7 linked regions of the Homo sapiens genome follow. The protein of the gene in region 1 purifies or fractionates together with the protein of each later gene. This does not show direct contact. Each region holds a gene or a part of one and is shown on either strand. Other genes may lie near its edges. The genes, in order: ZNF346, YBX2, ZNF512, CTCF, BRIX1, ELAVL2 and YTHDC2.

Evidence for each region.
Region 2: the proteins of ZNF346 (region 1) and YBX2 purify together in Homo sapiens (co-immunoprecipitation; 2 studies listed by BioGRID and IntAct, with this or other methods). This does not show direct contact.
Region 3: the proteins of ZNF346 (region 1) and ZNF512 purify together in Homo sapiens (affinity purification with mass spectrometry; 2 studies listed by BioGRID and IntAct, with this or other methods). This does not show direct contact.
Region 4: the proteins of ZNF346 (region 1) and CTCF purify together in Homo sapiens (co-immunoprecipitation; 2 studies listed by BioGRID and IntAct, with this or other methods). This does not show direct contact.
Region 5: the proteins of ZNF346 (region 1) and BRIX1 purify together in Homo sapiens (affinity purification with mass spectrometry; 2 studies listed by BioGRID and IntAct, with this or other methods). This does not show direct contact.
Region 6: the proteins of ZNF346 (region 1) and ELAVL2 purify together in Homo sapiens (affinity purification with mass spectrometry; 2 studies listed by BioGRID and IntAct, with this or other methods). This does not show direct contact.
Region 7: the proteins of ZNF346 (region 1) and YTHDC2 purify together in Homo sapiens (co-immunoprecipitation; 2 studies listed by BioGRID and IntAct, with this or other methods). This does not show direct contact.

The regions. Positions count from the first base shown.
Region 1 is NC_000005.10:177,039,383-177,043,504, reverse strand, and holds part of ZNF346 (zinc finger protein 346), read right to left. Parts: intron 2,380-4,122; coding exon 2,276-2,379; intron 1,728-2,275; coding exon 1,635-1,727; intron 1-1,634.
Region 2 is NC_000017.11:7,287,483-7,291,981, forward strand, and holds the end of YBX2 (Y-box-binding protein 2), read right to left. Parts: intron 4,095-4,499; coding exon of another isoform or gene 4,050-4,094; intron 3,701-4,049; coding exon 3,611-3,700; intron 3,054-3,610; coding exon 2,769-3,053; intron 2,590-2,768; coding exon 2,486-2,589; intron 2,244-2,485; coding exon 2,048-2,243; intron 1,357-2,047; coding exon 1,306-1,356; 3' UTR 1,267-1,305; intron 1,162-1,266; 3' UTR 781-1,161; downstream 1-780. UniProt on the Homo sapiens protein: Major constituent of messenger ribonucleoprotein particles (mRNPs). Involved in the regulation of the stability and/or translation of germ cell mRNAs. Binds to Y-box consensus promoter element.
Region 3 is NC_000002.12:27,589,295-27,593,416, reverse strand, and holds part of ZNF512 (zinc finger protein 512), read right to left. Parts: intron 1-4,122. UniProt on the Homo sapiens protein: May be involved in transcriptional regulation.
Region 4 is NC_000016.10:67,621,526-67,625,025, reverse strand, and holds part of CTCF (transcriptional repressor CTCF), read right to left. Parts: coding exon 3,435-3,500; intron 1-3,434.
Region 5 is NC_000005.10:34,921,743-34,925,864, forward strand, and holds part of BRIX1 (ribosome biogenesis protein BRX1 homolog), read left to right. Parts: intron 1-474; coding exon 475-545; intron 546-796; coding exon 797-846; intron 847-952; coding exon 953-1,026; intron 1,027-1,258; coding exon 1,259-1,309; intron 1,310-1,390; coding exon 1,391-1,492; intron 1,493-3,104; coding exon 3,105-3,233; intron 3,234-3,483; coding exon 3,484-3,753; 3' UTR 3,754-4,122. UniProt on the Homo sapiens protein: Required for biogenesis of the 60S ribosomal subunit.
Region 6 is NC_000009.12:23,696,867-23,700,988, reverse strand, and holds part of ELAVL2 (ELAV-like protein 2), read left to right. Parts: intron 1-4,122.
Region 7 is NC_000005.10:113,568,855-113,572,976, reverse strand, and holds part of YTHDC2 (3'-5' RNA helicase YTHDC2), read right to left. Parts: intron 1-4,122. UniProt on the Homo sapiens protein: 3'-5' RNA helicase that plays a key role in the male and female germline by promoting transition from mitotic to meiotic divisions in stem cells.

The sequences.
Region 1 (4,122 bases):
TATGAGCCACCGCACCCAGCCTCCCATTGCGTTCTACTTGTTGATTATGATTAGGCTAGGAAACCATGTATTTCAAGACTACATAAAGGGATCCCAGCATCTCTCTCAGAAAGCCTGATCTCTGAATAGGGTGCAAATATGTAAAATAACTTGCCCAGGGTCATAGAGTTTATCTTGCCTTTCTGAATTATAAATTGTGAGAAAAGGGCCAGGTGTGGTGGCTCATACCTGTAATCCTGGTACTTTGGGAGCCTGAGGTGGGAGGATCACTTGAGACCAGGAATTTGAGACCAGCCTGGGCAACAAAGCGAGACCCTGTCTCTACGAAAAATTTTTTAAAAAATCAGCCAGGCGGCTGGGCGCAGTGGCTCACACTTGTAATCCCAGCACTTTGGGAGGCTGAGGCAGGCAGATCACTTGAGATCAGAGGTTTGAGACCAGCCTGGCCAACCTGGTGAAACCCTATCTCTACTAAAAATACAAAAATTAGCTGGGTGTGGTGGCGCGTGCCTGTAGTCCCAGCTACTTCAGAGGCTGAGGCAGGGGAATCGCCTGAACCCAGGAGGTGGAGGTTGCAGTGAGCTGAGATCGTGCCACTGCACTCCAGTTAGCCAGGCGTGGTGGTGTGTGCCTGTAGTCCTAGCTACTTGGGAGGTTGAAGTGGGAGGATCACTTGAGCTTGGGAGGTTGAGGCTGCAGTGAGCCGTGACTGCACCACTGCACTCCAGCCTGGGTAACAGAGCCAGGTCCTGTCTCACAAATAGACAGATAGAGAAATAGAAAGGAGGGAAACCAGGGATAAATAAATAAATAATAAGGGAAACCAGGGGATGAGTCCAGTAAATTTTGAGAAGAGATAAACAAGGACCTTCCTGACCTGTGGCTACTATAATAGGAGGTAGCAGTCTATAGAGTAAACTCTTATTTATTGAGCATCTACTAGGAATTGAAATTTTACCTCACAATACCCTTAAGAAGTAGGCATTATCTCTACTTTATGGGGGAAGTTCACAGAGGTTAAGTGACTTGGCCAAACTCACCCGATCAGTAAGACACACAGCCAGCTTTGAGCCCTAGTCTGCTTAACTTCTCTTCCCATGATGAGATGGTACTCCTGAGGGATTGGGGGTTGCTTCAGCATAATGCTCATATTATTTCTGAGCCAAAAAGCACATGTGATCACCTCTCAATCACAGCAGACATTTGGAAAGGTGTTCCTTCTGCTTATTTATGCAAAACATTCAAGTGCTGAACTTAGTTCTTTTCCTTGGCCCTCAAGAAAGCAAGCAGCCTGGCTTCTTTCCATTTTCTCTTGTCTTGCTCTAACAAACCACTAGGCGGTAATATGTAATACCAGCTCCATTACTGAGTCCCTACTATGTGCCAGGCTCTGAATTGGGTGCTTTTTATAAATCTGCCCTCAATTTTAGTTCTAAAAAATCCTGAAAGGTAGTTGATATTACCATCCTCATTTTTATAGAGGAAGAAATCAAGGCTTTGTGAAGTAATAGACTTGCCCGAGTCACACAACAGGGCCAGGATTTGAAGCCAAGACAGTCTGACTTGTTCACCACACCAACCTGCTGGCTGGCTTCATCATGAAGCAAGTGGGCTCAATATGGCAGCTGTATTACCTGATCTGAGTCTAGCTTCTTCGTTTCCCCCTTTAATGTCTCCATTCCATGGATTGCTAGGTATCTCTTCACTTTGTTGGCATGTTTTTTGCTCTGCAAAAACCCAGGAGAAAGATCAAAGATAGCCAAATGCTACTTCATACTTAAGGCACTCAAAAACACTTATGAGATTTTCATCTGATTCATCCTCACAAAAAGTTTTGAGGAGGAGGTGAGGGAAGTTTGAGTTCCTGCTCTGTGCAAGGCATTTTACAGCTACCAAATTTAATCTTCACAATCTATGAGAAAATTATGACCATTTCTATTTTATGGATGAGGAAACTACATCTAAAAATGATGAAGTTTCTTGCTCAAGATGAGTAGCAGAGTTTTGATTTAAAGTCAGATCTATTTAAAGCCAAAGCTCATACTTTATGCTATGCCAAGCTGCAAGGGAAGATACACATATAATGATCCTGATTTGGATGGGGGAGATGAGACTCAAGGAGATTAAGTCAATCTTCAAGTCACAAGCCAACATGCATGGAGGCAACATCTGGGTGGCTAAGCAGCAATTACACTTCACCATGCAAGCCAGAGAGAATTAGTGGTTTGGCACCAGGTCTGAAAAGAAACGCAGTTCTAAAAGTATGATGGCATACCTGGTAATGTGCCAGCTTCTGGGACTCAGAAATAAGCAAGGCGCAGCAAACCTTACACTGGGTGTTGGTGAAGAGACATTGGTTCTTCTGGATCATGTGCTCCACTATAGAGGGGAAAACAAGAAATCATTGAGTTGACAAACACTACCTCAACAGCACTGCCTTTGAACCCTGCCTCAAACACAGGCACTGAATGATGGGATGCCATACTAGGACACTGGCAGACCTCAGCCAGCCTTTCCTACTGCCACCGTGACTCATGCTGTGTTCTCACACCACCTACACTATTACTTATTTTATAATTTTATGTATGCCAACTTTCTTTACTTAGGAACTTCTTTTAAAAAGGAATCTTTAGATCATAAACTTAAGCAGATACCAATAAAAATAAATATGATAAAAATGAGGCTTGGAGCATTCCCCAGGAAGAAGAGAACAGCAACTGTGCTGAGAGGTTTTAAGATATGGTAGCACCCAACTGAAACTTCTTCCCAGATAGAATCAGGAGGACTGAAAGACTCGAAAAAGGAATACTTTTCTCATTGTTCTTGATCTGACTTTGAAACATTTAAAATCACATAACAGGGTGGGGCGTGGTGGCTCACGCCTGTAATCCTAGCACTTTGGGAGGCCGAGGTGGGCAGATCACCTGAGATCAGGAGTTCGAGACCAGCCTGGCCAACATGGTGAAACCCTGTCTCTACTAAAAATACAAAAATTAGCCAGGTGTGGTGGCAGGCACCTATAATCCCAGCTACTCGGGAGGCTGAGGCAGGAGAATTGTTTGAACCCAGGAGGCAGAGGTTGTAGTGAGCTGAGGTTGTGCCACTAACTCCAACTTGGGTGACAGAGCTAGACTCTGTCTCTAAATAAATAAATAAAATAAAATCACATAACGTATTATATAAGTGCCACACTATATGAAACATGGTATTAACCTGTGCTTAAATTATTGTGCCTGGAGAACAGTCTTACCTTTTTGAGAAGAGAAGAGGAGGTAAAATCTCTCCCAAGGCATAAGTTCATTTTTGTTTGTTTTTTTTTTTTTTGAGAGGGAGTCTCGCTCTGTCACCCAGGCTGGAGTGCAGTGGCATGATGTCGGCTCACTGCAAGCTCCGCCTCCCAAGTTCACACCATTCTCCTGCCTCAGCCTCCCGAGTAGTTGGGATTACAGGCACCCACCACCACGCCCAACTAATTTTTTTGTATTTTTAGTAGAGACGGGGTTTCATCGTGTTAGCCAGGATGGTCTCGATCTCCTGACCTCGTGATCCACCCACCTTGGCCTTCCAAAGTGCTGGGATTACAGGCGTGAGCCACCGCGCCCGGCCAAGGCATGAGTTCTATCATGGCGCTGGCAATGTGAGGCAGAGGCAGAGGCAGAGTCTAAAACTGGGAGAGGAGGGCAGGCCCACATTTTTAATCTCCTGGTCTCAGCCAAAAAGTGGTCAAGGCTAGGCACAGTGGCTCACACCTGTAATCCCAGCATTTTGGGAGGCTGAGGTGGGAGGATGGGTTGAGCCCAGGAGTTTGAGACCAGCCTGGGCAAGATGGTGAGACTCTGTCTCTACATAGAAACAAACACACCAACAAACCAAAAACTAGCCGGGGGTGGTGGCACATGCCTGTGGTTCCAGCTTCATGGGAGGCTAAGGCTGAGACAGAGACAGAAGGATTGCTTGAGCTCAGGAGGTCAAGGCTATGGCAAGCCATGTTAGTGCCACTGTACTCCAGCCTGGATAACAGAGCAAGCCCCTGTCTTAAAAAAAAAAAAGTCGATGCCCTGGAAGAGGTTCTTGGTGGGGAGCTTTTAAGATGTCTCTCCTTAATCCACAAAATCTAAAGCT
Region 2 (4,499 bases), on another chromosome or scaffold:
AGCCTTCCAGGGCAAGAGGGAACAGGAAAGTATGTGCCCATGTGTGGCAAGATGGAAGGACGGCAGGCTCCCGCCTCTAGGCTTGGGGCTCTACCCCGATGGTTTCCCAAGGCTGCCAAGAAGGAGCCCTAACTTTCTTCCTCTCCCTTCCTGGAAGGGTGCTGCATCCACAGGCTTTTGACCAACTAAGGCAAAGAGGGGATTTGAAAGGCTGCCTGGAAACACTGGGCTGGGAGGAGCCTTTGGATATTTTTATATACGTTTGAAAAGGGGATTGAGAGAAGAAACCAAAGGTCGGTTGTACTAAATGTATATATATAGATACTTCTATAAAGTCACTGCTGAAGACAAGCATCCTATTGTGGAGGTACTTGAGGATGGGCTGAGACAGGGACCATAACTCTTCACCCCTCTTCCTCCCTCTGTCCTGCCTCAGCTCAAGGCCTCAGAATCTTCTGGATGCCATTGCTCATGCCCCTACTCACATTTCTACTCGTTGCTTTATTAATAGTAAATGCTCAATAAATTGTAGCTGCCAGTGCCGGGCATTGCTCTTGGCATTTGCAGAATACTCACTCTGTGAGGGAGGTGTCAGCCCATGTCACAGATGGGCAGTGAAACCCATGATAGGGGCACTCTTCACCAGGGACACAGCTGGAGACATGGCAGCAAGGATGCCAGGCCCTGCCCACGGCCCCACATCCCCTCCTCCCCACCTTCAACAGTGAGTTACTAGCGATTCTCCAAAACAGAAGAGATGGAGACCAAGACCACAGGAAAGCCTGTTTTTGTTTTTACTGGAGGCTCAGGTGGCACATGACAGATCATAAAATGGCTTCAGAGGTAGGGGGCCGGGGGAAAACAAAAATAAACTTGGGGTGGGGGCAAGAAAAGCAACCAGGAGGAGGTAAGAGCTGGCTGGTTCCTTCTCAGCCTGAGTTACGGGAGGGAGTTGCTGTCTCTGAACAGTAAGGATGGCTCCCTTCCTTCAACCCTTGATAAGGGGAGGGAAGAAAAAAGAAAAAGCAAAAGGCTGCTGCTTTGGTCCTCCTGAGTCTCAAGGAAAAGGTGAAAAGCTGGTGTTTTGATGTCATGAATTATGGGAAAGGGGGAGCAGGGTACTGGGTAGGGTACAGGTCATTTGGAAAAACTGGCAGATACCTGAGAGAGAAAAGGAAATGGACGGATTGTGAACAACAGCGACTTGTCATCGCCACCCAGTACCTCACCTTCCTGGCCACCCACCCAACTGCACCAGCCACTCACCAGATGGCAGCTCTGGGTGTCCTCTGAGTTGAGTTGGAATCACTCCAGGATGGTGGTGGTGGGGTCCCCACTGTTGACAGGGGCTGAGGTCTAAAGAACAGCGGTGGCCAATTGAGACTTGTTCTTTTTGTTTTTGAGACAGAGTCTCACTCCAGGTTGGATGGAGTACAGTGGCGTGATCTTGGCTCACTGCAAACTCCCCCTCCCAGTTCAAGTGATTCTCCTGCCTTAGCCTCCCAAGTAGCTGGGATTACAGGCATGTGCTACCACGCCTGGCTAATTTTTGTATCTTTAGTAGAGACGGGGTTTCTCCATGTTGGTCAGGCTGGTCTTGAACTCCTGACCCCAACTGATCTGCCTGCTTCTGCCTCCCAAAGTGCTGGGATTACAGGCATGAGACATCGCGCAGGGCTGAGACTTGTTCTTCAGGGCCCTGAACTTCAACCTTCTTTCACTTTTTCCCTTCCCATTAAAACCTCAATCACACCCCTCAGTTCACATCTACAAGCTGGTAGGATGGCTCCAGGCAGCAAGTGGGGGATGGGTTGGGGGGGGCATGGCCATCATGGGCAATCATGGGCTTGATTGCCTCTGTGGGGGCTTCCTGGTGGGAGGCGGCACCTGCCAGGGGGGGACCCAGCAGGCTGCATGGAAGAGGGTGGTGGCAGGGCCAGGGCAGGGGAGGGGAGGAGCCAAAGGATAGAGTAGGAAAGAAAAAGGAGCAGGTGGGGGAGGGAGCTGGTCTCAGCCTTTTCTTTCATCCCACATCTGAGGTCCTCACCTCAGGGGCTGCGGGCTGCCGGGGGCCAGGGGCCTGCTGGGGGCCAGGGGCCTGCTGCCGTCTCCGCTGGAAGTAGGGGCGGTTTCGTGGGCGCTGGGGCTCAGGCCGGGAACCATCAGCGGGACCTTGGCTGGGCTTGGTCTCACCATCCCCACCTTCTGTGGTAGGCTGCTGGCGTGGCCTGGGGCGGAAAGGCCTAAGGCAAGGAACAAGGCTCTGAGGGGACCAGGGAATACTCCCTCCCCAGGGCTCACCCAGCTGCCCCACCCCACCTCCAGGAGCCAGGCTTCCAGCCCATGAGCACTGCCTCCCCGCAAGGCACCTGTCTCGCCAGGAGCCCAGGCTCTGCCTAGAGCTTCACCCTTCCATCCTCCTGTCCCTTGCCCCAAGGATCCAACACTGGAAGGGGAAGACCAAGCCCCAGCAGGGGGGTCTTACCTTCGGTACCTGGGCCGGAATCTGGGCGGGGGGACTCGCTCATCTCCCTGCTGTTGGTGCCCCTCCAATGGGGCTGTCTCTTTGGGTTCTACCCTGTCAGTGCCCTGGGAACATGCAAAGGCCCCGGTGAGCTGTGGGGACAGCAGCTGCTCTGGAGCCAGATTATCCACAGCTCTGCCCAACCCTCAGTTCCTCCTTCTTTGGGGACCCATGGTCTCTATCCTAACTCCCACTCCTCTCCTGAACTTGGGGAACTGGCTCCCATATTCCAGCATCCCCTCACCTCTATAGGCTGCTGCTGGTTGGGAGGCCGGGGGCCTCGCACAAACCGCCGTCGGTAGAAGAAGGGTGGGGGGCACCATCGTCGGGGCCGTTGCCCAGAGTCTTCAGCCCGCTCCCCTTTACTGCCAGGTCCTGTCCCCGCCGAGGGGATCTCTGCCACCATGGGTGGTGGGGCAACTGAGGGAGGCCGGGGGATGAATCGGCGGGACTTACGTCGGTTGGGGGCATAACGGCTGCCCTTCACGGGTACTCCCCCAGGCCCAGTTACATTAGTGGCTTCTGCGCCCTGGGAAGGTGGTAAGGGAATAGTGAGAACCTGCTCCAACAGCCAATGTGCATTTCCCAACTTGCTTCCCCTTCTTTCAGGGGAAGACCCCTCTCCAGCTTTCCTTTAGCTCCTCTAACTTCTTTCTACCCTCCCTGGAGAGGCAGTGGAATGTGCTTGCACCCATTTGGGAAGGAGCAACATGTCCTTTTGAAATAATTGCTACTGCACCCTCCTGAGTATACGACTGGGTGGAGAAAGGCCTGGCAGCCAGCATCCACCTTTTTACTCCAGAGGCGGACTCGGGAAGTCTAGGACAGGGCCCCACGTGGAGAACGGATGTCGAAGTGCTTGGTGAACTAGAGAAGAAACCCAGACACTGCCGACCGATGACAGGGACATACTTAGGACATCCCTTAGCCCTAGCATTAAGGAAGAGGACATCAGGGTGAGAGAACACAGTCCCATTCCCGCAGAACGGGTCAGAGCTGGCCCCAGGAGGGTCTTAGCCTGTGATGACCTCCAGGCCACCCTCCCGTAAGCCTAGTCAACTCTATACCCCATAGCAGTCCCCAAACCTTCTCTCCTTCCACGACATCAAATTCCACAGTCTCCCCATCTCCAACGCTGCGCAGAAACTTCCTGGGGTTGTTTCTTTTAATAGCTGTCTGATTGGGGAAAAGGCCATGTGAAAAGTGAGACAGCAAGACAGGAGTCTCTGTCACCCCTGCTGGGGCCACCACCCAATTTCATTCTTTCAACATTTGACTTGGGGTCTAGAGCTGGAGGGTGGAGCAAGGAGGTGGTCAAAGTTTAGCAGGGGAAAAGTCCTGAACTCAGGGCCTCAGCAGATTGTGCAGTTACCACCATCCCCAGGATGCACTCCCCGCACCTCCCCTCCCGCCCCGCTTTACCCCTCAGGGATTTCAGAAAGGGAGGCAAGAAATATGAACTCCAAAGCAAAAGGCAGGGACAGCCTTCAGTCGCAAAGTGGGTAGAATGCACTGTGCTTCTTACCTCAGTCCCAGTGAGAGCTCTTTCCACCAAGCAGTGGTTCTCAAGCTGTAGCGTGCATCAGAATCACCTGGAGAGCTCGTTAAACCGATTGTGGAGCCCCAGCCCCAGCTCTGATTGATTCACCAGGTCTGGGGTGGGACCTGAGAATTCGGATGTCAGGTGATGCTGCTGCCGCTGGTGCAGGGGCCACGCTTTGAGAACCACTGCACCCAAGGACCTTCTCCCTCTGAAAACTGCCTCAGTGCTTCCTGGAGTGTTAACAGGTCCCGGTGGGTAGTAAGCGTGCCATGCCCAGGGGTAACATGCTCAATTCTGACGGACGTTTAGTAACCCAGCACAAGTGCGGCTAATGGTGGTTGACACAGGCACCCAAGGCGGATGGGCCGTTGTGAAGAAGAGCCAGAGAAACATGGCGGAGCGCACTGCTAAGGATTACAGCAAAGGCCTTCA
Region 3 (4,122 bases), on another chromosome or scaffold:
AAGCACTTTTTTTTTTTTTTTTTTTGAGACAAGGTCTCACTCTGTCACTCAGGCTGGAGTGTAGTGGCTCAAGCACAGCCTCCACCTCCCAGGCTTAAACAATCCTCCCACCTCAGCCTCCTGAGTAGCTGAGACCACAAGTGTGTGCCACGGTACCCAGCTCATTCTTTTGTGTGTGTGTGTGTGTGTGTGTGTGTGTGTGTGTGTGTGTGTGTGTGTGTAGAGACAGGGTCTCACTTTGTTGTCCAGGCTGGTATCAAACTCCTGGGCTCAAGCAATCTTCCTACCTCAGCCTCCCAAACTGCTGGGATTACAGGCATGAGCCACGGTACCCAACCAAGACACATCTTAACGAAACTATTCAGCCAGGAAGGGGAGGGGAGACATGAGGGAGTGAAGAGAGGAAAAAAAGAAAAAGAATATAAATGTATCAGCCAGGCGTGGTGGCTCACGCCTGTAATCCCAGCACTTTGGGAGGCTGAGGCAGGTGGATCACCTGAGGTCAGGAGTTCACGACCAGCTTGACCAACATGGAGAAACCCCGTCACTACTAAAAATACAAAATTAGCTGGGCATGGTGGCACATGCCTATAATCCCAGCTACTCAGTAGGCTGAAGCAGAAGAATCGCTTGCACCTGGGAGGCAGAGGTTGTGGTGAGCCAAGATCGCGCCATTTGCACTCCAGCCTGGGCAACAAGAGCGAAACTCTGTCTCAAACAAAAAAAAAAAAAAAAAAAAAAAAAAAAAAGGTAAACATGGTAAATTATATGGGTATACTTTAACTCAATAAAAAATAAACTAGGCCAGGCATGGTGGCTCACACCTGTAATCCCAGCACTTTGGGAGGCCAAGGCAGGCAGATCACTTGAGGTCAGGAGTTGGAGACCAGCCTGGCCAATATTGTGAAACCCCACCTCTACTAAAATACAAAAATTAGCTGGGTGTGGTAGCGGGTGCCTGTAGTCCCAGCTACTTGGGAGGCTGAGACAGGAGAATCACTTGAATCTGGGAGGTGGAGGATGCAGTGAGCCGAGATCATGCCACTGCACTCCAGCTGCCCTGGGCTACAGAGCGAGACTCCATCTCAAAAAAAAAATAAAAATAAATAAATAAATAAAAAAACTAAGCTGGGTGCAATGGCTCAAGCCTGTAATCCCAGCACTTTAGGAGGCTGAGGCAGGCAGATCCCTTGAGCCCAGGAATTCAAGAACAGCCTGGGCAACATGGCAAAATCCTACCTCTATTAAAAATACAAAAAATTAGCCAGGTGTGGTGGTGTGCACCTGTAGTCCCAGCTACTCAGCAGGCTGAAGTGGGAGAATCACCTGAGCCCAGGAGGATGAGGCTGCAGTGAGCAGAGGTTGCGCCACTGCATTCCAGCCTGGGCAACGGGAGTTAGGCTCTGTCTCAAAAAAATTGTTTAAATAAATAAGAAACTATTCAAAGCCAAAGATTTTGTTTTAAACTAGAAAGCTTCAGAAAAGTGACATATTACATTACAGGAAATGATTTAAATGACCATGGGTTTCTCAACAGAAACCAAGAATGCCACAAGGCAGTACAGTATCTTTAAAATCGAACCAGTGTAATGGCTCACATTTGTAATCCCAGTACTTTGGGAGGCCAAGGCAGGGGGACTGAGCCCATGAGTTCAAGACCAGCCTGGGCAACATAGCAAGACCTTGTCTCTACAAAAAATAATTTTAAGGCTGGGCGCGGTGACTCGCGCCTGTAATCCCGACACTTTGGGAGGCCGAGGTGGGCAGATCACAAGGGCAAGAGATCAAGACCATCCTGGCCAACATGGTGAAACCCCATCTCTACTAAAAATACAAAAGCTGGGCGTGGTAGCATGCGCCTGTAGTCCCAGCTACTCGGGAGGCTGAGGCAGGAGAAATGCTTGAACCCGGGAGGCGGAGGTTGCAGTGAGCCAAGATACACCACTGTGCTCCAGCCTGGTGACAGAGCGAGACTCTGTCTCAAAATAATAATAATAATAATTTTAAGAACTTAATTGTACATTTTTAAATAACTAAAAGAGTGTAATTGGATTGTCTATAACACAAAGGATAAATGCTTGAGGGGATGGATATCCCATTCCCCATGATGTGATTTCACATTGTATGCCTGTATCAAAACATCTCATGTACCACATAAATATATATCCTTACTATGTACCCACAAAAATAAAAATAAAAAAATTTTAAAGCAATTATCCAGGTGTGGTGCCATGCAACTATAGTCCCAGCTACTTGGGAGGCTAAAGTGAGAGGATCCCTTGAGCTGAGGAATTTGAGGCTTCAGTGAGCTATGACCGCACCACTGCGCTTCAGCCTTGGCAACAGAGTGAGACCCTGTCTCTAAAAAGAAAAAAGAAAAGGAAAAAGAAATATCTTTAAAATTTTGAGAGAAAAAATTTGTCAACTCAGAATTCTATATTCAGTGAAAATATCCTAAGAAATAAAACTAAGAGAATTCATTGTAAGCAGACCTGCTCCATATGAAATGCTAAAACAAATGATTCCAGCTGAAGAAAAATAATACCAGAGAGAAACTTGGATTTTTAAGAATGAAGAAAGAGCAACAGAAATGGTAAACAGGCCGGGGTAGATGGCTCACACCTCTGTAATCTCAGCTACTTGGGAGGCTGAGGTGGGAGGATCACTTCAGCCCAGCAAGCAATGAATGTGCCACCAACTCCAGCCTGGGCAACAGAGCAAGACACTGTCTCTTAAAAAAACAAGAGTAGGGGCAGACACTAAGCATTCAAATAATCCAAAAGAAGAAACACAGGAACAAAAAACAATGGATAAACAGAGAACAAAAAATAAAAGGGCAGACCTATCCAACCATATCAATAATTAATTTAAATGTTTACAGTCTAAACACTCCAGTTAAAAGTCAGCAAATGACAGAGTAAAATAAAAAGTGATACCCTACTACATGCTACCTACAAGAAGCACACTCTAAAATATAAAGACATCTATAGATTGAAAATAAACAGATGAAAAAATTGTATCATACAATCAGCAAACATAAGGCTGGAATGACTATTTTAATATCAGATAAAACAGACTTCAAGACAAAGAGTACTGCCAGAGATAAAAAGAGACACTTCATAATGACAAAAGTGTCAAATCATTGGGAAGGCATAATTACCCACTGTATGTGCCTAATAATAGAGCCTCAAAATACACAAAGCGAAAACTGACAAAATTAAAGGGAAAAATAGACAATTCCACAATCTTAGCAGAAAATTTAAGACCTCCCCCTTTCAGCAACTGATAGAACTAGATAAAAATTCAGTAAAAGACATAAATGATCTGAACTGCACTATTAGCCACCTTGCTCTAGTTAACATTTACACAACACTACATCTAACAACTGCAGGATATATATTCTTTTCAAGTGCACATTATGCATTCATTAAGCTAGATCTTACGCTGGGCCATCAACTTTAACTTTTATTAAAAGGATGAGAATTACACAGTGTATTCTCTGACCACATTGGTATCAACTTAGGAGTCAATAATAGGAAGATATCTAAAAACAAAAAACACAAAAAATCCAAATATCTGCAAATTAAATAATCTACTTCTAAATAATTCATAGGTCCAAAATGAAATCACAAATGAAATTTGAAAATATTTTGCACTGAAAAACAACAAAAATATGCATATCAACATTTGTAGGATGCAACTAAAGCAATACTTAGAAACTTAAAGCTTTAAATGCTTATACTAGAAACGATCTAAAATCAATGACTTAAGATTTCATCTTAAGATACCTTAAAAGGAAAAGCAAAGTAAACCAAAGAAAAGGTAAGGTAAGAGGAGAAACCCATGAACTAGAAAACAGACAATAGGGGAAATGTGGTTCTTTGAAATGATCACAAAATTGACAACCCTGTAGCTAGACTTAGACTGATCTACAAAAAAAGACACTACAAATAGCCAATATCACAAATGAAAAAGGGGTTACCGCAGATTATGTAGACATTAAGTAATAATATACTTTGAATAACTTTATGCTAATCAATGGAAAAATTACAATGAACAAATTTCTTTAAAAATACTACTTACCAAAACTGACACAAGAAGAAACTGGAAATCTAAGTAGCC
Region 4 (3,500 bases), on another chromosome or scaffold:
TTAAACCAGGGAAGTGGTGGTTGCAGTGAGCCGAGATCGCGCCACTCTACTCCAGCCTGGGTGACAGAGTGAAACTCCGTCTCTCACACAAAGCACACAAGCACACATACACACAAAGAAGTCTCAGAGTTGGGCCAGGTGTGGTGGCTCACACCTGTAATCCTAGCATATTGGGAGGCTGAGGTGGGTGGATTGCTTGAGTCCAGGAGTACGAGACCAGCCTGGGCAACATAGTGAAACCCTGTCTCTACCAAAAGCTAAAAAAAAAAATTAGCTGGTCATCGTGGCATGTGCCTGTGGTCCTAGCTACCAGGGAGGCTGAGGTGGGAGGATTCCTTGAGCCTGGTCGATGCTGCAGTGAGCCAAGACTGAGCCACCGAACTCCAGCCTGGGCAACAGAGCAAGACAGTCTCCAGTAAAAAACAAAAACAAAAACAAAAACCTTGGAGTTAAGGCCAGTGAGAGAAAAAAAGGTTAAAATAAGAGAAAGTTTAAAGAAGTAAGAGGAAGAAGAAAACCAACAGGATTTAGTGTCACAGAGGCCAAGGGAAGAAAGTGTTTCAAAGGAAGAGGGTACTGTCAACGATGAAGAACACTGCTAACAGATCAAGTCATCTCTTAGGAAGAAGAGTGGAAAGGAGTCTTCACTACATTCAGAGAGTGGGGTCATTCATGACCTTAAGCAACAGTCATTATACCAGAGTGATGGGGAATAAGCCAGACAAGAGGGAAAGATGAGGGGGAGAAGACTGTGAGGGATGTTAACTCTTCATAAAGGCTGGCTGGGAAGGAGAGAAGAGTTAAACCTAGAGGGTGAAGACATACATATATATAAAAATACATATATATATGAATACATATATATATACACACATATATACACACACACACATATATATACACACACATACACACACACACACACACACACACACACACACACACACACACACATATATAATTTTTTTTTTTTTTTTTGAGACAGTGTCTCACTCTCTTGCCCAGGCTGGAGTGCCGTGGCGCGATCTCCGCTCACTGCAACCTCCCCCTCCCGGATTGAAGCAATTCTCCTGCCTCAGCCTCCCAAGTACCTGGGACTACAGGCATGTGCCACCACACCCGGCTAATTTTTGTATTTTTAGTAGAGATGGGGTTTCACTGTGTTAGCCAGGATGGTCTTCATCTCCTGACCTTGTGATCCGCCCATCTCAGCCTCCCAAAGTGCTGGGATTAGAGGCGTGAGCCACCGTGCCCGGCTATATTTTTATTTATTTTAAGAGACGGGGTCTTGCTATATCACACAGGTTGGTCTAGAACTCCTGGCCCATCCTCCTGAATAGCTGAAACTACAGGTGTGAGCCACTGTGTCTGGCTAAGATTCTTTTTTTTTTTTGAGATGGGGTCTCTCTGTCACCCAAGCTGGAGTGCAGTGGCACGATCTCGGCTCGTTGCAACCTCTACCTCTTAAGCTCAAGTGATCCTCCCACCACAGCCTCCTGAGTAGCTGGAACCAAGGGTGCACCTCACCACAACCGTTTTGTATTTTTGGTAGAGATGGAGTTTTGCCATGTTGCCCAGGCTGCTCCGGAACTCCTAAGCTCAAATGATCCACCCACCTTGGCCTCCCAAAGTGCTGGGATTACAGGCGTGAGCCACTGCGCCTGGCCCTTTGTCTTTATTTTTTAAGTAGGAAGAGAAGTCATTTACTGAGACCAAGAGGGGAGAGAAAAAAGAAGGAAAATTAGAGGTTATAAGAAAATAGGAGTAGGGGATCTGGTGTAGCAGCTCTCGCCTGTAATCCCAACACTTTGGGAGGCCAATGAGGGCAGATCACTTGAGGTCAGGAGTTCGAGAGCAGCCTGGCCAACATGGTGAAACCCTGTCTCTACTAAAAATACAAAAATTAGCCATGGGCGGGCACCTGTAGTCCCAGCCACTTGGGAGGCTGAGGCAGGAGAAGAGCTTGAACCCAGGAGGCGGAGGTTGCAGTGAACAGAGATCAGGCCACTGCACTCTGGCCTGGGTGACAAGTGCAAAACTTTGTCACAAAAAAAAGCAAGTGAGGGCTGGGCGCGGTGGCTCATGTCTGTAATCCCAGCACTTTGGGAGGCCGAGGTAGGCAGATCACCTGAGGTCAGGAGTTCAAGACCAGCCTGGCCAACATGGTGAAACCCCATCTCTACTAAAAAATACAAAAAAAAAAAAAAAAAAAAATTTAGCCGGGCATGGTGGTATGCGCCTATAATCTCAGCTACTCAGGAGGCTGAGGCAGGAGAATCACTTGAACCTGGGAGGCACAGGTGGCAGTGAGCTGAGTTCATGCCATCATACTCCAGCCTGGGTGACGAGAGGAAAACTCCATCTCAAAAAAAAAAAAAAAAAAAGTAAGAGTAGGTTGCCCAACTCTATATAAGCACCAAACACTGTGGAATGAATTCGCTCACTCATAAAGAACTGGAGCACACCTGACAAGAACAAACAGCTGGAACAGCTAGGAGCAGTGAGGGCCCAGCTACATTTGGGATCATGAATTTATGTATTTACGGTACTACAAGTTGTATCAACTGAGGTGATATCCCACTAAACTTAAAGAGAGCTAATTATTGGGAGTAGATATGAGGTAAGGGAGAGGATGGCTCTCACTTTTTACTCGTTACCTTTTTTTTTTTTGAGACAGAGTCGCGCTCTGTCACCCAGGCTGGAGTGCGGTGGCGTGATCTCTGCTCACTGCAAGCTCCACCTCCCAGGTTCACGCCATTCTCCTGCCTCAGCCTCCCGAGTAGCTGGGACTACAGGCGCCCACCACCATGCCCAGTTAATTTTTTGTATTTTTAGTAGAGACAGGGTTTCACCATGTTAGCCAGAATGGTCTCGATCGCCTGACCTCGTGATCCACCCGCGTTGGCCTCCCAAAGTGCTGGGATTACAGGTGTGAGCTGCCGCGCCCGGCCTACACTAAATATTATTAATAAACTCCGGCTGCATGTAAACTCTAGTTTAACTATGCACAGAAATACAGTTACCACTAAACCAATAAAACAGTCCCATTACCTAGAGAAAGTACAGACGTTCTCAAAAAAATACAATAGAATGACCTGAGTTTGAATCACACTATGTTACTTTCCTATTTGGGGAAGGAAGGCTACTAATTAAAGGTGTACTCTGTCTCCTCCCATCACAGCTCCCATTAATTTATAGATGAGTTTTACTCAGGACAGAATCTTGTGGCCTGACTACAGTAAGAAAAGGAAGAAATAGAAAAAAAAAAAAAAAAAAAGCAGCTAAGCAATGGCTTTTACTAAACTAAGTGACAGGCCATTCCTATACATAAAATGTTATGAGAGTCAGAAGGTGAAGTTATTTTTGATCCCCATATTTCGAAATATAAATCCTTCAAAATATTTTTTTCACTTCTCACTAGTTAATCTACTTACCCAAATCACTTTTTCGGGCTATGACTGTGTCACAGTGGGGACAGTGAAATTTGGCCACATTTTCTG
Region 5 (4,122 bases), about 140 Mb from region 1:
TAAAAATACAAAATTAGCGGGGTGTGATGGCACAGGCCTGTAATATCCCGGCTACTCCGGAGGCTGAAGCAGGAGAATCATTTGAACCTGGGAGGTGGAGGTTGCGGCGAGCCGAGATCGTGCCATTGCACTCCAGCCTGGGCAACAAGAGCGAAACTGCATCGCAAAAAAAAAAAAAAAAAAAAGGAGGGAGGTTTCCAGTAATCAGAAGTGAGACCATTTTAGATGCTAGGCCCAAAAATATGATAGATAATTTCACCCAAGATATGGGCAGAGCATCTAGTTTACCTTGGGTAGAATACCTAAGAGGAACTTTAAAGGTTCCTTCTGTGAATAAATACATGTTTAGGCCTTTGTAGCCTATTAGCCTGGTTAGGTATTTTTGAGATAATCTGGATGATATTAATCACATATAATTACTTTAGTTCTCATTTATATTATCTACTTCATTTTCCTATACTTTGCTTCCTTTAGGTTTGTGAAATGAAGAACTGTAATAAATGCATCTATTTTGAAGCTAAGAAAAAACAGGATCTCTATATGTGGTAAGAGAATGTATTAAGATTTTGGTTAAACTCATTTAAGTGGATTTGTTCTTTGTACCTTTTATGTTATAGACTCCTAGTGTTTCATGTTAAGGGTTGAGAATGAAGCAAACTTTTGATTTCACGAAACTTGATACCTTTAAAGAAAATTAAATGTATAAATATTATAAGCATATTATTTATGGTGAATAGGTGGTAAGCATTGACTACATTTGCTAATTAGTTGAAAAAGCTTACTCCATATCTTTCAGGCTTTCAAATTCACCTCACGGACCATCTGCTAAATTCCTTGTTCAAAATAGTAAGTTGACTCAATAAATTTTTTTAGATGAGGAAATTAAAAGTAATCTTTTGAAATAGTTGTGCAAAAGTTACAACTATTTTTGTTTTTGTTGTAATTTTTCTAGTTCATACCCTCGCTGAACTGAAGATGACTGGAAACTGTTTGAAAGGTTCTCGGCCCCTTTTGTCTTTTGACCCTGTAAGTTTCTCATTCAGTGTATGAGGTCTAATTTTCTTATCTGGCATGGTTGTTTTTAGTAGATATAGTTGTGTTATTCAATTTAGTTTCACCCCCACCTTGGTTTTATGGATTATCAATTCTTTCAGGTACATTTATAATGAGGTTATAGCCAAGTTATAGAAACAAATGAGCAAACAGTTTTAAACAAGGCAGTCTACTGTTAAATAATATGCTTACCTTATTTTTATAGGCTTTTGATGAATTACCACATTATGCTTTGTTAAAAGAACTCTTAATTCAGGTAAATATCTTTAAAATTAGCTATCCAAAATATACATGATATATCTTGGAATAAGGAACTAACATACACTTTTTTAACTAGATCTTTAGTACACCACGGTATCATCCCAAAAGCCAACCATTTGTGGACCACGTGTTTACTTTCACCATTTTGGATAATAGGATATGGTTTCGGAACTTTCAGGTAAGCTTTACTTGATTTTTAATTATACCTTTTTTTTAATTGAGTTTATTTATTTATGTTTTGAGACAGAGTCTCGCTCTTGTTGCCCAGGCTGGACTGCAGTGGCACAATCTTGGCTCACTGCAACCTCCACCTCCCGGGTTCAAGCTTCTGCTCCCTCAGTCTCCTGAGTAGCTGGGATTACAAGCACCCATCATCACGCCTGGCTAATTTTTGTAGTTTTAGTAGAGACGGGGTTTCGCCATGTTGGCCAGGCTGGTCTCAAACTCCTGACCTCAGGCCATCTGCCCGCCTTGGCCTCCCAAAGTGCTGGGATTCCAGGCGTGAGCCACTACACCCGGCCTAATTTTTTTTTTTAGAGATAGAGTGTCGCAGTGTTGCCTAGGTTGGCCTTGAACCTCCTGGCCTCAAATCATTCCTCCTCAGCATCTTGAGTAGGTGGGATTGCAGTTGTGAGCCACTGTGCCTGGTCAATTTTTAGTTAAACTTTTAGATAAGGATATACAGGGTTTGCATACACAAAAAATGCAAATAATTCTTTTGTTTTAAATAGCTTCCTTTTCCCTAAAGAGATTGCTGCAAGTAACTATGTACTGTCTTATATCTTAAGTGAGCTCTACCTACTTCTATTCATGACTGTTAGTTGATACAGAGTATGGATTTCCTAATAAGCCATTATATATTTAACTTTATAGAAAGGGAATAACTTGAAGATCCATGAGATACTTGGGTTCCTAATTTGTAGAAAGTGCTGTAAAGGATACAGTAAAATAGAAGTTTCTCTCTCAAAGCTTAGAAGTTTCTCTCTCAAAGCACCTCAAAGGTTAAGACCTAGCAAAATGTAATTGCTCTAGAAGGCATTCAATGGCAGCGGTTAGATGATGAGTCACACAGTGACTCATTCAGGAGAAAAGAGGAGGTGACTCTAGAAATCTTGAAGCAGGAGTTTGGCACGATAAGTGCAGAAAGATGAAGAGGTGGAAGAGAACAGCAAGAACAAAATTTTAGACAGTATATGACATAAACTGAGCTCTTTTCTGCATATTTTATATTGGATACCTGGCATGTGAGTTGAACACATCATCCTAACCTCTGAGGGTAGACATGCCTGAACTAATAGATAACATAAATATTTGTTGTTCGGAAGTTGCCTTTTAATTCCATAATCAGTAGCTATTAAATAAATTTGACTACATATCCTTTTAATCTAACTTGAATTAGATTTATAAAAACAATTTAGGGATTGATTTAAGTTTCAAGAGTTCCCCCATAATGTGCTTTAATACATTTTGTTAATAGTGGTTACTGTTTTAAAATCCTGTTTAACCAGTTTTTCAAGGATATATGCATTGTGACAAGCAAGATGTGAACCAAAATCTAATTACTCAATTTTAAAAGAACTCACTGAAAAAACATTTTTCCATGACAACTTCCTATAAGTACTAATAGATTTCAGAAAATATTGATGATTTGCCATTTACCAAGTTTCACCCCCACCTTGATTTTATGGATTATCAATTATTTCAGGCACATTTATAATGAGGTTATAGCCAGTATACCTTTTGGGAATAACGTAACCAAACCAAAATGAAATGTTTCCTTTTTATTAAAGATCATAGAAGAAGATGCTGCTCTTGTAGAAATAGGACCTCGTTTTGTCTTAAATCTCATAAAGATTTTCCAGGGAAGTTTTGGAGGACCAACTTTATATGAAAATCCTCACTACCAGTCACCAAACATGGTAAGCGGTTGTGTCATTCAGTAGTCTTCAATGTACCAGAACCCTTTGGCCAAAATGATTCTGTGAAGTAATTGCTGTTTTATTACCTGTGAAACTGAATTTGGTTTTTGCTGCATAGAAACTTGGAAATTACTCCCTTTTTTCATGACACTGGCTGAAAGGATATATGGTTCATAACTGAAAGTCTTTGCCTTATATAAAATGTTTATTTTTATTTCAAAAGCATCTAATCTTTTTTTTTTTTTTTTAGCATCGGCGTGTCATAAGATCCATCACAGCTGCAAAATACAGAGAGAAACAGCAAGTGAAAGATGTGCAAAAACTGAGAAAGAAAGAGCCGAAGACTCTTCTTCCACATGATCCCACTGCAGATGTTTTTGTAACACCAGCTGAGGAGAAACCAATAGAAATACAGTGGGTAAAACCAGAGCCAAAAGTTGATTTGAAAGCAAGAAAGAAACGGATTTACAAAAGGCAAAGAAAAATGAAACAGAGGATGGACAGTGGGAAAACAAAATAAGTCAATGGAAACCTGATTTGTTTTTCAGTTACTTTATATTTATTTTGTATTCAATGTGTAAATACTTTTATTATCTAATACTATCTTACGTCTAATTAGTGTAGCATTTACAAGAAAGAAAAATTAAGATCTTAAAATCAGTGATTATCTTTTTCTAAATAAAATATCACCAGAATTCATCAGTTAATTTCTGATTTCTTTTTGAAGTTTGTGTTGCTAAAAATGTAGCACACTTAATGTAGCCTGTTCTCTTGGGTTGGAATTTTTGGTTTAGCAAAGCTGAAATTCAGACATTTATTAGGTCATATTATTTGTAAAAGCATTCAACACTTCAAGAGCATCGGTTGTGGATGGTAAAGTAGGAGTAGA
Region 6 (4,122 bases), on another chromosome or scaffold:
TACCTGGTCCAAAGCACCAATAATGCTGTGGTTGAGAAATTCTAATCTGTAGCTTTCTGGGGTTATCTGAATTGTTTCCAGGGCTTCAGATTTCCTTTTTTTTTTTTCTTAAAGGATTTTATTCTCATGTGTCAATTTTTAGGTCAAGCTGTTTCTGTTACTTCACTTTATAGTATGTGCACCATTAAGGGTATATAACCTATGTGACTACGTGAAGTTTCTACAAATGAGTTCCTCTCTTCCTTTTCAAAATTGTTTACAAACAGGTTGGCAGACTTTCTCTGTACAGTACCAGATAGTAAATATTTAACTTTATGGGTTATGGTCACTGTTGCATCTGTCTTGTTTTTGTTTTTAAACAACCTGTTAAAAATGTAAAAGCCATTCTTAGCTTATAGCCCATACAGCAACAGGTGGGAGGCAGTCTCCATTTGGCCTGTCGGTTGTAATTTACTGACCTCTCTGTAGTTCATAGAATGACCGTGGCTTTAGCCCAAAGAAGACACTCTATCTCACTGACAGGTGTACATATGCTAACTGTTTAAGTTTTATTCTGATCCTGGGATAACAAACCAGGAGTCATTCAAAAAATCTCTAATCTGCATGTGAGAAGAACAGTGACTTTAAGAAGTTAAGCAGAGCAGAGAGTTTTTGGTTTCATAAGCAAGTCATGCAGTTTTTATTTTCCAGGACATTTTTAAATATCCTTTTTGGCCATATGGTACACTATACCCAGAATGCTATCTAACCCCACACTGATTTTTAAAAATTATTTCCAAGTGCATATCAATTTTATTTATTTCATTCATGGGACAGAATAGTTAATTACCAAAAATATAATCACAAATATAACCTAATAAGATCAGGAGTTATGTTTTCTAGCTTAAATCTATGCATTTATTTTTTTCATTGGAATATTTGCAGTGCTGAAGAGAGTGGAGATAAAATCAGTTAAAAATAGCTCCTTTTAAAAAAATACTAAATTATGTTGCTTGAGATATGAGAAGGAAATTTGTTATGAATGCCACATTAAATTTCAACTTAAGTTGGCCTTTGCCGTGGGAGAAGAGGTGGTACTGTCAAAAGCATTGAGCCTTGTACTTCATGCTCTGCTGTGAGGAAAAGGCATTGGTATTAAAAAAAAAAAAAAAAAAAAAAAAAAAAAAAAAAAAAAAACCTTTGCCACCTTTGACTTCCCATGGTAGTGGTGATCAGACTAGTGTGGGAGATGCGTGGGGCTGCCTGATGCTTGCCTTTGTGGAGAAAGAAGTCTCACAAAGAAAGCCCTTTTTCAGCTCTGCACATAGGTTTCCTCTGTGACATCTTAAGTGAATAATATATGTATAAATATACTTTTTTAAATTGCAAACGTAGGATGAACAAGCCTGAAGGAATTTTACAGGTATTTCCTAGGCAGCTTGTCCAGTTAATTTCAGAGCTCTTTGGGGCCTTGAAAATGATCTCGAGTTTAGATAGAACAAAGTTCTTCATAATGTATTGGTTGATTTTTAACATTGTGAAGTTATAAAATGTTTGCTGTTAGTGGAAAGCTATATTAGCTACTTTTTTTTTCCAGATTGAAGCAATGATTTTGTTTGATAGTTATTAAGTAAAACAAAGTTCTTGGAATCAAGATTGAATTCTTAGGAAGATTGAGAAGACAGGATTTGGGAGAGTGCCTGATTATTGAAATGGCAAGGCTTGTAGGTGACTCAGGTGCTAGGTTGTTGATGGGTGTCAGCCCTTAGGTTTACCTAGCCTCCATCCCTGCAGGCTCTGTGCTTTTTATTTTTGGTTGAGTAAAGCTTTACAGGATGTTCTTATGGTCAAATTTAATTATCTTTTTCTGGCCCATTCTGTGTTTTTATCTTTTAGTACCATATGTTATCATTAACTTGAAAATTCTTTTTCCTTCACTCCTATAGAAAGACATTTTGGAAGAAGAGAATAAGAGATTGTCAGTTGTAAGGGAAACTTGGTTTCAGAAAATGGGAGAAATTGTTATTCTCTCTTCAGATTTTTAACTGTTGTCCCATTCACCCCATTTCTCATTCCTCCCATGATCCCTGTCCAGATAATAAAATATGAACGAGTTAGTGTGCTCAGAGATAGTGTTTGATCTAGATTGGGTGTGTTGGAAGAAATCAGATTTCAGGTTTAACCTGATGTTTGATGCTTTTCTTTAATACAGTATATTGAACCTGGTTGTCATTATCTTGATTTCCGCCCCACTCCCCCTTCTTCTTTCACCTGATAAAGAAACTTGAATTAAGGGCTTGCTTGTTTTGTTGGTATTTTGCTGTTTTCTGTAGTTCGAGTCTAAATCATCACACAGATATATTTTGTCCCTGATATTTGTGTTTTAATGCTCTTGCCTTGAGTTTTTGTCACCTTTCAGCAGACATGTAGAAAATTTCTCACTGTATTTTTATGTTCTCATAGTACCTTGGGAGTTGAGAGAGATTGAGCAATATAAGTTATATGTATTATGGTCAAGAATACTTTTAATAATCATAAAGTATGAGCCATATCTTTTATGGTCAAAAAGCTTAAAAATCCATGTAATAAGGGTTAAGTTTAAAGGTGGGTTTGTGAGGTTTATGGCTTAGTCAATCTATGAATAATCAGAGAATTGTTGTAATATGAGCACTGCTGGTCTAATACGCTTATTTAATTGACTGCAGTTTTCAAAATAGGACAAGCCTTATTTATTTGGATGGATGGTGTAATTCAAGCCCCTTAAGTATATTCTTGGGACATGATATCAGAATTAAACTTTAAGCCAAATTTTTTCATGTTCTTTTCTGTGAAACAGCTATAATTTTATTGAATATGATCTAGTGTAATGACCTGTGTGCCTGCTTCTATGAGCCTTTATGCATTTTTTAAAAAGCCTTTTAAATGAGCACTTGAGTTGCCTTTAAGGCATGACGTACTGGTTGCATTATCACAATTTCCTTTTGGAAGAAACCGGTATCAATCCCCTTGAATACTTTTCCTCTTTCTTAGAGGACAGATGATACCATCTAATTGAATAAGGCAGTAAGGCAGTAAGAAGATGATCTTGTTGTAGATAATTTCCAAGCAGTTCTCGGTTGGCGCTTTGGAGAGATTTTGATAATCATTATTTGTGGGATTCCGAGTATATTTTCTTACCCATCAATAACTTATCTTCCTATTTTTATTTCTGACTTTAATCGGGTTCACATTTCCCCTTACTTACATGTAGGCCTTCCCATAGTCCATCAGCTAATTTTTTTAGAAATTAGGCAGGTACTTTATTTTTATTTTCTACTTATGAACACCTAGCTTTAAAATAGGAATGATCTGATACATGGTTCTGTTCAAAATTTTGACAGGTTATAATTGGAGCTTTGGTCCTGTTGATAGAAAAATGTTTATACACATCTCTCTCCTATGTGCCTTTTTCATAAATTACATATGTACATGGGCGTGTGCTATTCATTAAATTATAAACTCTAATCAAACATAAAAAAGGATAAAGATGAGACAATCTGTATTAAATGTCTTGCTAATTACTATACTGGTTGGCTTCATTTTCCATGTACCTAATATCTTAATAAATGTCTTTTAAAGCAAGACCATAAAATAATTTCAGATATCTCATCTGACTTCATGTGATGCATGTTGGATTATCTTGTGTCTAACCTTATAATGTAGCTTGTACTAAGAGTAGGAGAAATAATCGGCTCTCCCTTTCCTTATTTACTTGTATTTCCCTTACTGGTACCATTCTTTACTCTGATTTACATTTGTAGTAATCTTTTTTTAAGTTACTTTTTCTTTAAATGGAGGTCATTTTAATTAAAGCAGGTTATCCAGTCTAATCCTCCATATCTGCTTGCTGTGTTATTTGTAAAATGGATTTTGTTCAGGCTAAAGAGCAGGAGAGAGTGCCACTCGCCGCCTCTCCCCTTCGATGATTGCTCAGTCTTCCCCCAGGGAGGCAGGTGATACACAGGACTGAGAAGGTACTGGGTTCAGTGCATCTATTAAATATAAGTAAAAAATACTTTATTTTAAATACATATTTATTTTATATTTTATTTTAAATATATATTTAATGGATACTTTAATATTTACCTTCCATATGTACTACGT
Region 7 (4,122 bases), about 63 Mb from region 1:
ACCATAAAAGTAATATTGAAGGTAAATGGGGTAAATGTCCCAAGTGAAAGGCACAGAATGGCAAACTGGATAAAGAGCCAAGACCCACGAGTATGCTGTCTTCAAAAGACCCATCTCACATGCAAAGCCACACATAGGCTCAAAAGAAAGGGATGGAGGAAAATTTACCAAGCAAATGGAAAACAGAAAAAGGCAGTGGTTGCAATCCTAGTTTCTGATAAAACAGACTTTAAACCATAAAGATCAAAGAAAGGCATTACACAGTGGTAAAGGGCTCAATTCAACAAAAAGAACTCATGATCCTAAATATATATGCAAGCTAATACAGGAGCACCCAGATTCATTAAACAAGTTCTTAGAGACCTACAAAGAGATTTAGACTCCCATACAATAATAGTGGGAGACTTTAACACCCCACAGACAACATTAGACAGATCATCAAGACAGAAAATTAACAAAGATATTCAGGACCTGAACTCAGCTCTGGATCAAGTGGACCTGATAGATATCTACAGAACTCTCTACCCAAAAACAAGAGAATATACATTCTTCTCATCGCCACATGGCATTTATTCTAAAATTGATCACATAACTGGAAGTAAAACACTCCTCAGTAAATGTAAAAGAAGTAAAATCATAACAGTCTATCAGACCACAGCACAATCAAATTAGAACTCAAGACTAAGACATTCACTCAATACCACACAACTACATGGAAACTGAACAACCTGCTCCTGAATGACTCTTGGGTAAATAACAAAATTAAGGCAGAAATCAAGAAGTTATTTGAAAGTAATGAGAACAAAGAGACAATGTACCACAATCTCTGGGACACAGCTAAAGTAGTGTTAAGACGGAAATTCATAGCACTAAATGAACACATCAGAAAGCTAGAAAGATTTCAAGTTAACCACCTAACATCTCAATTTAAAAAATTAGAGAACAAAGAGAAAACAAACCCAAGCTAGCAGAAGACATGAAATAACTAATATCAGAGCAGAAGTGAAGGCGATAGAGACAGGAAAAACCCTCCAAAAAAATCAGCAAATCAAAAAGCTGGTTCTTTTTAAAAATCAATAAAACAGACTGCTAGCTAGATTAATAAAGAAGAAAAGAGAGAAGAATCAAATAGACACAATAAAAATGATACAAGGGATCTCACCACTGACCCCATGGGAATACAAACTACCATCAAAGGATACTATAAACACCTCTATGCAAATAAACTAGAAAATCTAGAAGAAAGAGGTAGATTCCTGGACACATACATACTCCTGAGACTGAACCAGAAAGAAGCTGAATCCCTGAATAGACCAATAACAAGTTTGGAAATTGAGGCAGTAATAAAGAGCCTACCAACCAAAAAAGCCCAACCAGATGGATTTACAGCTGAATTCTACCAGAAGTACATAGAAGAGCTGATACCCTTTCTTTTGAAACTATTCCAAACAACTGAAAAGGAGGGACTCCTCCATAACTCATACTGTAAGACCAGCATCATACTGATACCAAAGCCTGACAGAGATACAACAAAAAAGAAAACTTCAGGCCAATATCCCTGATGAATATCAGTGCAAAAATTCTCAATAAAATATGGGCAAACCAAATACAGCAGCACATCTAAATGCTTGTCCACCACAATCAAGTTGGCTTCATCCCTGGGATGCAAGGCTGGTTCAACATATGCAAATCAATAAACATAATTCATCACATAAACAGATCTAAAGACAAAAACCAAATGATTATCTCAATAGATGCAGAAAAGGCCTTCAATAAAATTCAACATGTCTTCGTGTTAAAAACTCAATAAACTAGGTAGTAAAGGAACATATCTCAAAATAATAAGAGCTATTTATGACAAACCCACAGCCAGTATCATACTGAATGGGCAAAAGCAGGAAGCATTCTCCTTGAAAACTGTCACAGTACAAGGATGTCCTCTCTCATCACTCTTATTCAACATAGGATTGGAAGTTCAGGCCAAGGAAATCAGGCCAGAGAAAAAAATGAAGAGTATTCACGTCGGGTGGGTGCAGTGGCTCATGCCTATAATCCCAGCACATTGGGAGGCCGAGGTGGTAGATCACTTGAAGTCAGGAGTTTGAGACCTGCCTGGCCAACATGGTGAAATGCCAAATCTACTAAAAATACAAAAAAAATTAGTGGAGTATGGTGGCAGACGTCTGTAATCCCAGCTACTCCGGAGGCTGAGGCAGCAGAATTGCTTGAACCCAGAAGGCGGAGGTTGCAGTGAGCTGAGATCACACCGCTGCACTCCAACCTGGGCGGCAAAGTGAGACTCCATCTCAAAATAAAGAAATAAAGAGTATTCAAATAGGAAAAGAGGAAGTCAAATTATCTTTGTTTGTAGTTGATATGATCTACATCTAGAAAACCCATTATCTCAGTCCAAAAGCTTCTTAAGCTGATAAGCAACTTCAGCAAAGTCTCAGGATATAAAATCAATGTGCAAAAATTGCTAGCATTCCTATATACCAACAACAGGCAAGCAGAGAGCCAAATCATGAATGAATTCACATTCACAATTGCAACAAAAATAAAATACATAGGAAAAGGCCAAGCATGATAGCTCACGCCTGTAATTGCAGCACTTTGGGAGGCCAAGGCAGGCAGATGGATCACCTTGAGGTCTGGAGTTCAAGATCACCCTGCCCAACATGGTGAGACCCTGTCTCTAGTAAAAATACAAAAATTAGCCAGGAATTGTGGTGCGTGCCTGTAATCCCAGCTACTCAGGAGTCTCAGGCAGGAGAATTGCTTGAACCCAGGAGGCGGAGGTTACAGTGAGCTGAGATTGTGCCACTGCACTCCAGCCTGGGTGACAGAGCAAGACTCCATCTCAAAAAAATGAAATAAAATAAAATAAAGTAAAATAAAATACCTAGGAATACAGCTAATAAGGGAAGTGAAGGACCTCTTCAAGGAGAACTACGTATCACTGCTCAAAGAAATCAGAGAGGACATAAACAAATGGAAAAACGTTCCATGCTCATGGATAGGAACAATCAATATCATGAAAATGGCCATACTGCCCAGAGAAATTTACAGATTCAATGCTATTCCCATTATACTGACAGTCTTCACAGACTTAGAAGAAACGATTTCAAAATTCTTATGGAACCAAAAGAGACCATATAGCCAAGACAATCCTAAGCAAAAAGAACAAAGCTGAGGCATCACGCTACCCGACTTCAAGCTATACTACAGGGCTACAGTAGCCAAGACAGCATGGTACTGGTATAAGAACAAACACATAGAATGATGGAACAGAATAGAGAACTCAGAAATAAGACCACACACTTACAACCGTCTGATTTTTAACAAACCTGACAAAAACAAGCAATGAGGAAAGGACTCCTTATTTAACAAATGGTGCTGAAAGAACTGGTTAGCTATATGCAGAAAACTGAAACTGGGCCCCTTCCTAACACCTTCGACAAAAATTAACTCAAGATGGATTAAAGACTTAAATGTAAAACTCTAAACCATAAAAACCCTCGAAGAAAATCTAGGCAATACCATTCAGGACATAGGCACAGGCAAAGATTTCATGATAAAAACGCCAAAAGCAATTGCAGCAAAAGCAAAAATTGACAAATGGGATCTAATTAAACTAAAGTTTCTGCACAGCAAAAGAAACAACTATCATCAGAGGAAACAGACAACCTACAGAATGGGAGAAAATTTTTGCAATCTATCCATCTGACAAAGGTCTAATATCCAGAGTATACAAGGAACTTAAGCAAATTTACAAGAAAAAACAACCCATTAAAAAGTGGGCAAAGGACACGAACAGACACTTTTCAAAAGATGTACATGTGGCCAACAAACATATGAAAAAAAGCTCAACGTCACTGATCATTACTGGAATGCAATTCAAAACCACAATGAGATCAGAATTGCTATTATTAAAAAGTCAAAAAACAACATGCTGGTGAGGTTGTAGAGAAAAAGGAACACTTTTACACTACTGTGTAATTAAATTACACTAGTGTAAATTAATTCAACCACCATGGGAGACAGCATGGTGATTCTTCAAAGACCTGGAGGCAGAAATACCATTTCTGGGTAAATACCCAAAGGAATATAAATCATTCTATT